Linked DNA regions of Homo sapiens. The protein of the gene in region 2 purifies or fractionates together with the protein of the main gene of each other region. This does not show direct contact. Each region holds a gene or a part of one and is shown on either strand. Other genes may lie near its edges.

Region 1 (3,582 bases), on a different chromosome or scaffold from region 2:
AACCATCTTTCTTTGAACCATTTGATAGTGCAGCAGGAAAGGAAAATATTTTCTATTTTGTTCCTGTAACTCCATTATGTTGACCACTGCAAGAAATGATGTTTAGAGTTTGACTTTTTTTCCTCTTGAGGGATAACACCAATATATTTAAAAGTATGGTCTGTATTATTGTCCTTGAAATACGCTTTGTCCCTGTGCATAAGGAAGTTCCTCCACCCCATTTTGCCCATTCACAGCCTCAGAAAATCCGTCTATAGTTTATCCCCACTAGCTTAACATCCCTTTACTCATTAGAACGTTAAAAACTTGGGGATTTCAAATATACTGTATTCTACAACAGCTCTGAAAAACAAGACAAACTCCCGTACAAAACCTTGGAATGCTGTTTATATCTGTCCATTGAGAAATACCTCTCTCTTTAGTTAAGCCAGTTCTGACAAAAATTTTGCTATACTCTGCTTACTAATAAAGTCAGAGTCAGGGAAAAAAAGACTCCTTTATAACAGTTAAGCTTCCTTTATTGTCAACAAAATATACAAACTAATTTTCAAGAGGATACCTTTTGTTCTAAGATATATTCACACTAGCAAGATTTTATTTATTTTAAAGATAAACATCAGCAGATAAGCCATTTTATTTTCCAGTTTCAGTTTTATAATGTCACTAAAGTCATTATCAAATTTTAAATGATCACATCTATAATCAAAGGCTGATACTGTAAATATTATACACAGTAATAACAACTGTCTTAGAAGAGATATAGAACAAAGCTTATTTCTGCCTACACATATGATGACATCTATTGATAAGCTTTTAAGAAATATGTCATACCATATGACTTCAAAAGATGGGAAAACAGGTATATTAAATGAATAGCAATTTAAAAGACGCTACTTTCATTTCCTAGATTTCAGCATTAATCTAGGATTATATGATTAATTTTTAATCATAAAAAGAATTTTAAACTAACAAATTAAAATATACTACCTATAATAAATGAAATATCACACTAAAATGTGTTTGAGTCTAAGTGGGAGGAAAATCCACATTTATCTGATTTTTAGTATTTAAATTCTTGAAAAAATGTATGCTTTATTGCAGAACTAGCACTTTAACAAAATACAGACAATAACACTATCAAAATGTATGCAAATGGCAGCTATGTAATTTGTATGTTTAACAAGTTAAATCCATGTATTTCTTAATTTACTCTCCCGATTACCTACCACCAATATCAATATGAAAGAATTCTTTAATTTTATCATATAATACCAACACCAAAGCACCCCCTGTACCGCGAAGAACATTGGAGAAGGCGCCACGAAAAAAGGAACTGATTCCTTCATGTTGGTATATCTTCACAAAGCAGTCTAAGGTTCCTTTATATTGCCGTTTAGCCTCACCACTCTATACAAAGAAAAACAAAGGGTTTTCCATTATCTGAATATCTTTTATCTTAAGACAGTCTTCTATTAGCACTAAGGATAGATAAGATAAACACTGTGTTGAGTAGCACTGTGTTAATAGGCATATATGGCTACTGTCCCTGGTGGTTAGAGAACATTCATACTTTTCAGGCACACTTGAAAACTGACCATACATTAGGCGTTAACAAATGTCAAAGGATGTCATCACATAGACCATGATTTATCCTCTCACAGCACTGCAATTAACTGAGAAATCAATAGCAAAATAGAAAAATACCATATGGGCTAGGCATGGTGGCTCATGCCTGTAATCTCAGCACTTTGGGAGGCCGAGACAGGAAGATCGCTTGAGCCCAAGAGTTTGAGACCACCCTGGGCAATATGGAAAAATGCCATCTCAACAAAAAATACAAAAAATTAGCTGGGTGTGCTGGCACATGCCTGTGGTCCCAGCTACCCGGGAGGCTGAAGTGGGAGGATCACCTGAGCCTGGGAGGTCAAAGTTGCAGTGAGCCATGATCACACCATTGCACTCTAGCCTAAGTGACAGGGTAAGACCCTGTCTCAAAAAAAAAAAAAGAAAAAAAAAAAGAAATCATATGTTGGGATGTTAAGAACACTTCTTCTCAGAAAATACTGAAAACCAAATGATAATTACAAAACCTCTTACCTAAATTTTTAAGATGCAGCTTCGAGTTGTAATTTATAAGGAAATTAATGACCTTGAAATATTAGAAAAGGCTAAAAGTTAATGAGCAACCTAAACATTTTTAGACAAAGTATAAACCTAAAGAAAGTAAAAACAAGAAAATAACTGGCAGAAATAAAGGAAATAGAAAACACACACAACAGCACAAAAAAAGTCCAGTTAGGTCTTTGAAATACTTTGCTGACAGAGTTTGGAAATATTGTTTGAGGAAAAAAGAGAAAAGGCCCCAAGATTATCAGAAATGGCAACGGTAACAAAAATGCAGATGATCCAGAAATTTAAGAGCAAGATGATGTCATAAAAAACTTCATGACAATTATTTTTAAGTCATAAGAAATGGATAAATTCCTAGAAAAGTATAATTTACCAACAGAGTAGAAAAGAACTGGAATAATACTATAGTTGTTAAAAATTCAATCAGTTGTTGAATATCTTCTCATAAAGAAAACCACATGTCCAAAAGGCTTTACATGTGAGTTCTGCTAAACATTCAATGAACGTTTAATTCCAATCTTTCAGAAATTATTCTAGAGGAGAGAAAAAGTGGGATGACTCCTCAACGTATTTTATGAGGCTTGCACAGACTTGCTACTGAAGTCATACTAGAGCAATACAAGAAGGAAAAATACAAGCCAGTGTCATTAAACATGGATGCAAAAATCCTGAACAAAACCCAGCAATCAAATCTAGCAAGTGCTACAGAATACAATACTTGCAAACTGGGTTTATCCCAGGCATACAAGAGTTAGCTCTAGAAAACAGATTAATTTAACACAATATGTAAACATATTAAAAGAAAAAAAGGTTTAATCATCTCAGCAGATACAGAAAGAACATGACTGCCATTCATAATTAAAAATTGTTGTAATCCAGGAACAGAAAGGAACTGTCATTACATGATAAATGATAATGACAAAAAACCCCCACAGTTAATATTAAATTATGTAACACTGACGTCATTTTCTGTATGATTAGGAACAAGATAAGGTTGCCAGTTACTACTTTGTAAATATAACACTGAATCCGGGGTCTCAGTGAGTACAGAAAGGCAAGAAAGAGAAATAAAAGGTGTAAGAATTGATAAGGAAGGAAGAAAACACTGATATTAGTTGCAGATTATATGCCTGTTCATGTAAATAAAAATTTGGAAGGTATGTACATACACATTCGTGTTTGTAATAGGGTTAACAAAGTTGTGGGATGTAAAATGAAATACACAAAAATTAAGTAGTACTGTTATGGGCTGAATTGTTAAAATCATATATTGAAATCCTAATAACTCCCAGTACCTCAGAATGTGACTGTATTTGGAGATAGGGTCTTTAAAGGTAATTAGAATTAAATGAGATCACAAGAGTGAACCCTAAGCCAATATGACTGTCCTTATAAAAAGGGGAACAGGCCAGACGTGGTGGTTCAGGCCTGTAATCCTACCACTTCGGGAGG
Region 2 (4,272 bases):
GGTCTACTATATGGCTGAGTTATAAATAGCTTTTATATAGTCATGATAATATAGCACATGATAATATAAAGCACTGAAAATAGATCTAACTCAATTTAAAATATAACCACAGGGTGACCATGAAGTCAGTACACAAAGATAAAATATTTTTATCATATATGGCAGAATATCATGTATATATAAAATACTATTTTAATGTACATATAGTACAGTGATACCAATAAAAATCATCCTAGGCATTTGCCTGTGAGTCCAGACTAGGCGGCCACTCTGTATAGTGAGAGGAAGGGGACAAAGTTGTATATGCTTGGTGAAGCCAGGGGAGGAAGGAGAAATAAATCCTCCTCTTCATGATGACAAGTCAAGAAATAATGCCCCAAACTGAAAAATCCAAAAGTTGCAACACAGCATGCTATTTAAAGAAATGATGGTAAATATCAAGTAATTAGTTAAGGGAGATAAAAGTAGTTGCTTCTGGAAAAGGAGTCAAGGACAGCAGTTTTTCATAACAAATTTCTCAGAATTATTTGACCCAATTTATGTGCAAGTATAACTGTGATTAAATTTTTAATTAAAATAAAAACTAAAGATAAATATTTTAAAGTAACTAAGGGCCAGGTACGGTGGCTCACACCTGTAATCCCAGCACTTTGGGAGGCCAAGGAGGGCGGATCACCTGAGGTCAGGAGTTAGAGACCAGCCTGGCCAATATGATGAAACCCCATCTCTACTAAAAAATACATAAATTAGCCGGGCGTGGTGGCAGACGCCTGTAATCCCAGCTACTCAGGAGGCTGAGGCAGGAGAATCACTTGAACTGGGGAGGCGGAGGTTGCAGTGAGTCGAGATCGTGCCACTGCACTCCAGCCTGGATGACAGAGTGAGGCTCTGTCTCAAATAAATAAATAAATAGTAACTAAGGGGGTGGGGGGAGAAGAAGATGGCATTTCCTGTACAGCTGTTTGTGGTTAAAGATATTGCATATTCTAAGGGTGAAGAAGAGAGAGAGATGACTGTGTGACAGGTTAACCTTTATTTGGCCCTACAGACAGAAAGGATTCCAATGGCAGTGAAAAGAGGGAAAACATTGCAGACAGAGGAGAGAAGGGCAATAAAAGTGAAGAGGTTTGTGTTGTCAATTTCATGTGGGTCAGTAACAGACACCAATGTAGGTGGGGCGCAAGCATTGTTTGTCAGTGTCATGCTCACCTAAGAGCCTTTCTTGAAATGTCCCAGTTTGCCGAATCCCCCCTTTAGGACCCCTTATCCCCATTCAGACACACTCCAAGTCTCCCACTATTTATCTTATTTTTCTTCATATTAAACAATCAACCCTAACAGAGTCTTCTTTCATTGTATGCAGATGAGTTTTATAAGTACTCCTGATAATCTCCACACTCCTTCATAACAATGAAGGAAAAGGGCCTAGAATTTTATTTTGAGTACAGTAATGGGCCCCTTTTCCTATTGGTTGTCAACTGAGAGGTTTGCTGGTATCTTAATTCTGGCAGAATAAGAACCCTATCATTCTGATGTGTAGGACCCAAGACAGACCAGTAAAGTGGTGGGTCTGATGACGGAAAAACAGAAAGTGCATCCTAGTGTCTAGGGATAGACACGTCCCCAGCAAAAAAAAAAAAAAAAGGAAAAAAGATTTCTGAGAGGGAGGAGTGGGAGATAAGGTCAGGTCAGGGAGGTAAGTTGGGACATCCAAGACTGAGTACATTTGATTCATCCTGTAGGCACTGCAACGTTCTGGCAGGTAAGGAAGCTGATTCACCACATGATATAATATGGCAATAAAGTGCAAAATTAATTTCAGCAGAGTGAGATTGGTATTAAGGACCCAAGTTAGGAGGCTGTTGGATTCATCCCAGCCTGAGATGACTGGGACAGGAACCAGGAGGGAGGTAGGAGAAAAGAAAGAGAAGGAATGCATTTGAGAGACCAAGACCCCCAGACATGGAAGTGAAGGAGAGAGAGGAGCCAAAAGTAACTCTGAGTGTGGGTATGTAGGGGAAATGGCACCATCATTGACCAAAATGGGAAGATCAGGAGGAGCTGTGGAGGAAGCAATGGGTTTAGCTTAGCTCTTCTTGAGCCTGACAAGAGATAGACTGTCTGGGTGCAAGTGTGTAATTGTCCATTGGAAATTCAGGTAGGCAGCTCATTAGAGAAGCTACTTAAAGTCCACAGTGAAGTCACCTTCCACTTGCAGGCAGTAGGAATTTATATTGGGGGCTTGAGGAGCTTTCTAGGTTTGTAACTTCTTCTATGGGGAGCCTACCTGGAACAGTACAAGGAGGAAGGAGCAGCAGCAAGGGCTTTGTAAAGACTACAAGAGCTTTGGATGCATTGAACAAGTCACATTTTAAAAATCTATATTCGGGCCGGGCACGGTGGCTCACACCTATAATCCCAGCACTTTGGGAGGCCGAGGTGGATGGATCACAAGGTCAGGAGTTCGAGACCATCCTGGCCAACATGGTGAAACCCCGTCTCTACTAAAAATACAAAAATTAGCTGGGGGTAGTGGCGTGTGCCTATAATCCCAGCTGCTCGGGAGGCTGAGGCAGGAGAATCACTTGAACCCAGGAGGTGGAGATTGGAGATTGCAGTGAGCCCAGATAGCGCCACTGCACTCCAGCCTGGCGACAGAGCAAGACTCTGTCTAAAAAGAAAAAAAAAAATCTATATTTGAAGGCAAAATTTAATTTCATACTCATTCAGGCAATATACATATGTGGTGTATATATATAAATATATGTATGTTACCTAGAACATCTCATCTACAAACGTCTTCCAGTGTCTTTTCCTTCACACTTAACAAATCATGGAGAATTGTATATATTTTATAAAATATATATGTGTGTGTACATAAATACTCTCTCTCTCACACACACACACACACACACACATATATATGAAGAGAAAGAGAGAGAGCACGCACTAGTATTTAAGAGACCAGAGTTCTCTGATCTTGTCACTAGCAGTGGTTTTAGTTTAGTTGTTGCCAGATCTATAAAATAGCTAACATAGTACTAGCTACAACCCAGATAATATTCTAAGTGCTTTTTATGTACTAAATTAATTGATCATCACAAAAAAACTCTAATATTTAGGTACTATTATTATGCTCATTTTACAGATGACAAAATTGAGTAGTGTCCAAAATCACCAGCAGTCAGGAAACAGAGCCCAAGTTCATGTTCTTAACCTCTCAGACACTCAACTTATCATCTGTAAATTGAGAATGTGGGATTAAATTATGTCTAGAGTACCATCAAACTTTAATTTTGAATGAGATTATGAAGAATAAAGTGAGCATTAATCAGAATCAAAATTAATTTCTGAAAATTAGCAGCAGAGGGCAGCAGAGAGCACACTAAGGAGGCTTTTAAAAGACCTTTCTAAAGCTATGCAGAGTAATAATACATAAAATTTATAAACAAAAATACATATATTAACACATTTAATCTTCATAATTAATTTCCTAGTTTAGGCCCTTTGCTTCAATTCATCTTCCACTTTAATGCACTTAAAAGGGCCCATTCAAGGCCGGGTGCAGTGGTTCACACCTATAATCCCAGCACTTTGGGAGGCCGAGGTGGGTGGATCACCTGAGGTCGGGAGTTCGAGACCAGCCTGACCAACATGGAGAAACCCCATTTCTACTAAAAATACAAAATTAGTCTGGCGTGGTGGCACATGCCTGTAATCCCAGCTACTCGGGAGGCTGAGGCAGGAGAATCGCTTGAACCCGGGAGGTGGAGGTTGTGGTGAGCTGAGATTGCGCCACTGCATTCCAGCCTGAACAACAAGAGCAAAATTTAGTCTCAGAAAAAGAAAGAAAGAAGGAAAGAAAGAAGGAAAGAAGGAAAGAAGGAAGGAAGGAAGGAAAAAGAGAAAGAAAGAGAAAGAAAGAAAGAAAGAAAGAAAGAAAGAAAGAAAGAAAGAAAGAAAGAAAGAAAGAAAGAAAGAAAGAAACCCATTTGGCCAGGCGTGGTGGCTCACGCCTGTAATCTCAACACTTTGGGAGGCCAAGGCAGGTGGATCACCTCAGGTCAGGAGTTTGAGACCAGCCTGGCCAACATGACAAAACCCCATCTTTACTAAAAATACAAAAAATTAGCAGGGCGTGGTGGTGCATGCCTGTAATCCCAGCTACTCAGGAGGCTGAGGCAGGAGAATCGCTTGAATGGGGTGGGGTCATGGGCAGAGGTTGCAGTGAGCTGAGATCGGGCCACTGCCCTTCAGCCGGGGCGATAGAAC

Evidence for each region. The genes of interacting proteins can lie anywhere in the genome.
Region 1: the proteins of TASL (region 2) and SLC25A31 purify together in Homo sapiens (affinity purification with mass spectrometry; one large-scale study listed by BioGRID and IntAct). This does not show direct contact.

What each region holds. Positions count from the first base shown.
Region 1 is NC_000004.12:127,771,211-127,774,792, reverse strand, and holds the end of SLC25A31 (ADP/ATP translocase 4), read right to left. Parts: intron 2,150-3,582; coding exon of another isoform or gene 2,098-2,149; intron 1,408-2,097; coding exon 1,219-1,407; 3' UTR 501-1,218; downstream 1-500. UniProt on the Homo sapiens protein: ADP:ATP antiporter that mediates import of ADP into the mitochondrial matrix for ATP synthesis, and export of ATP out to fuel the cell.
Region 2 is NC_000023.11:30,567,343-30,571,614, forward strand, and holds part of TASL (TLR adapter interacting with SLC15A4 on the lysosome), read right to left. Parts: intron 1-4,272. UniProt on the Homo sapiens protein: Innate immune adapter that mediates the recruitment and activation of IRF5 downstream of endolysosomal toll-like receptors TLR7, TLR8 and TLR9.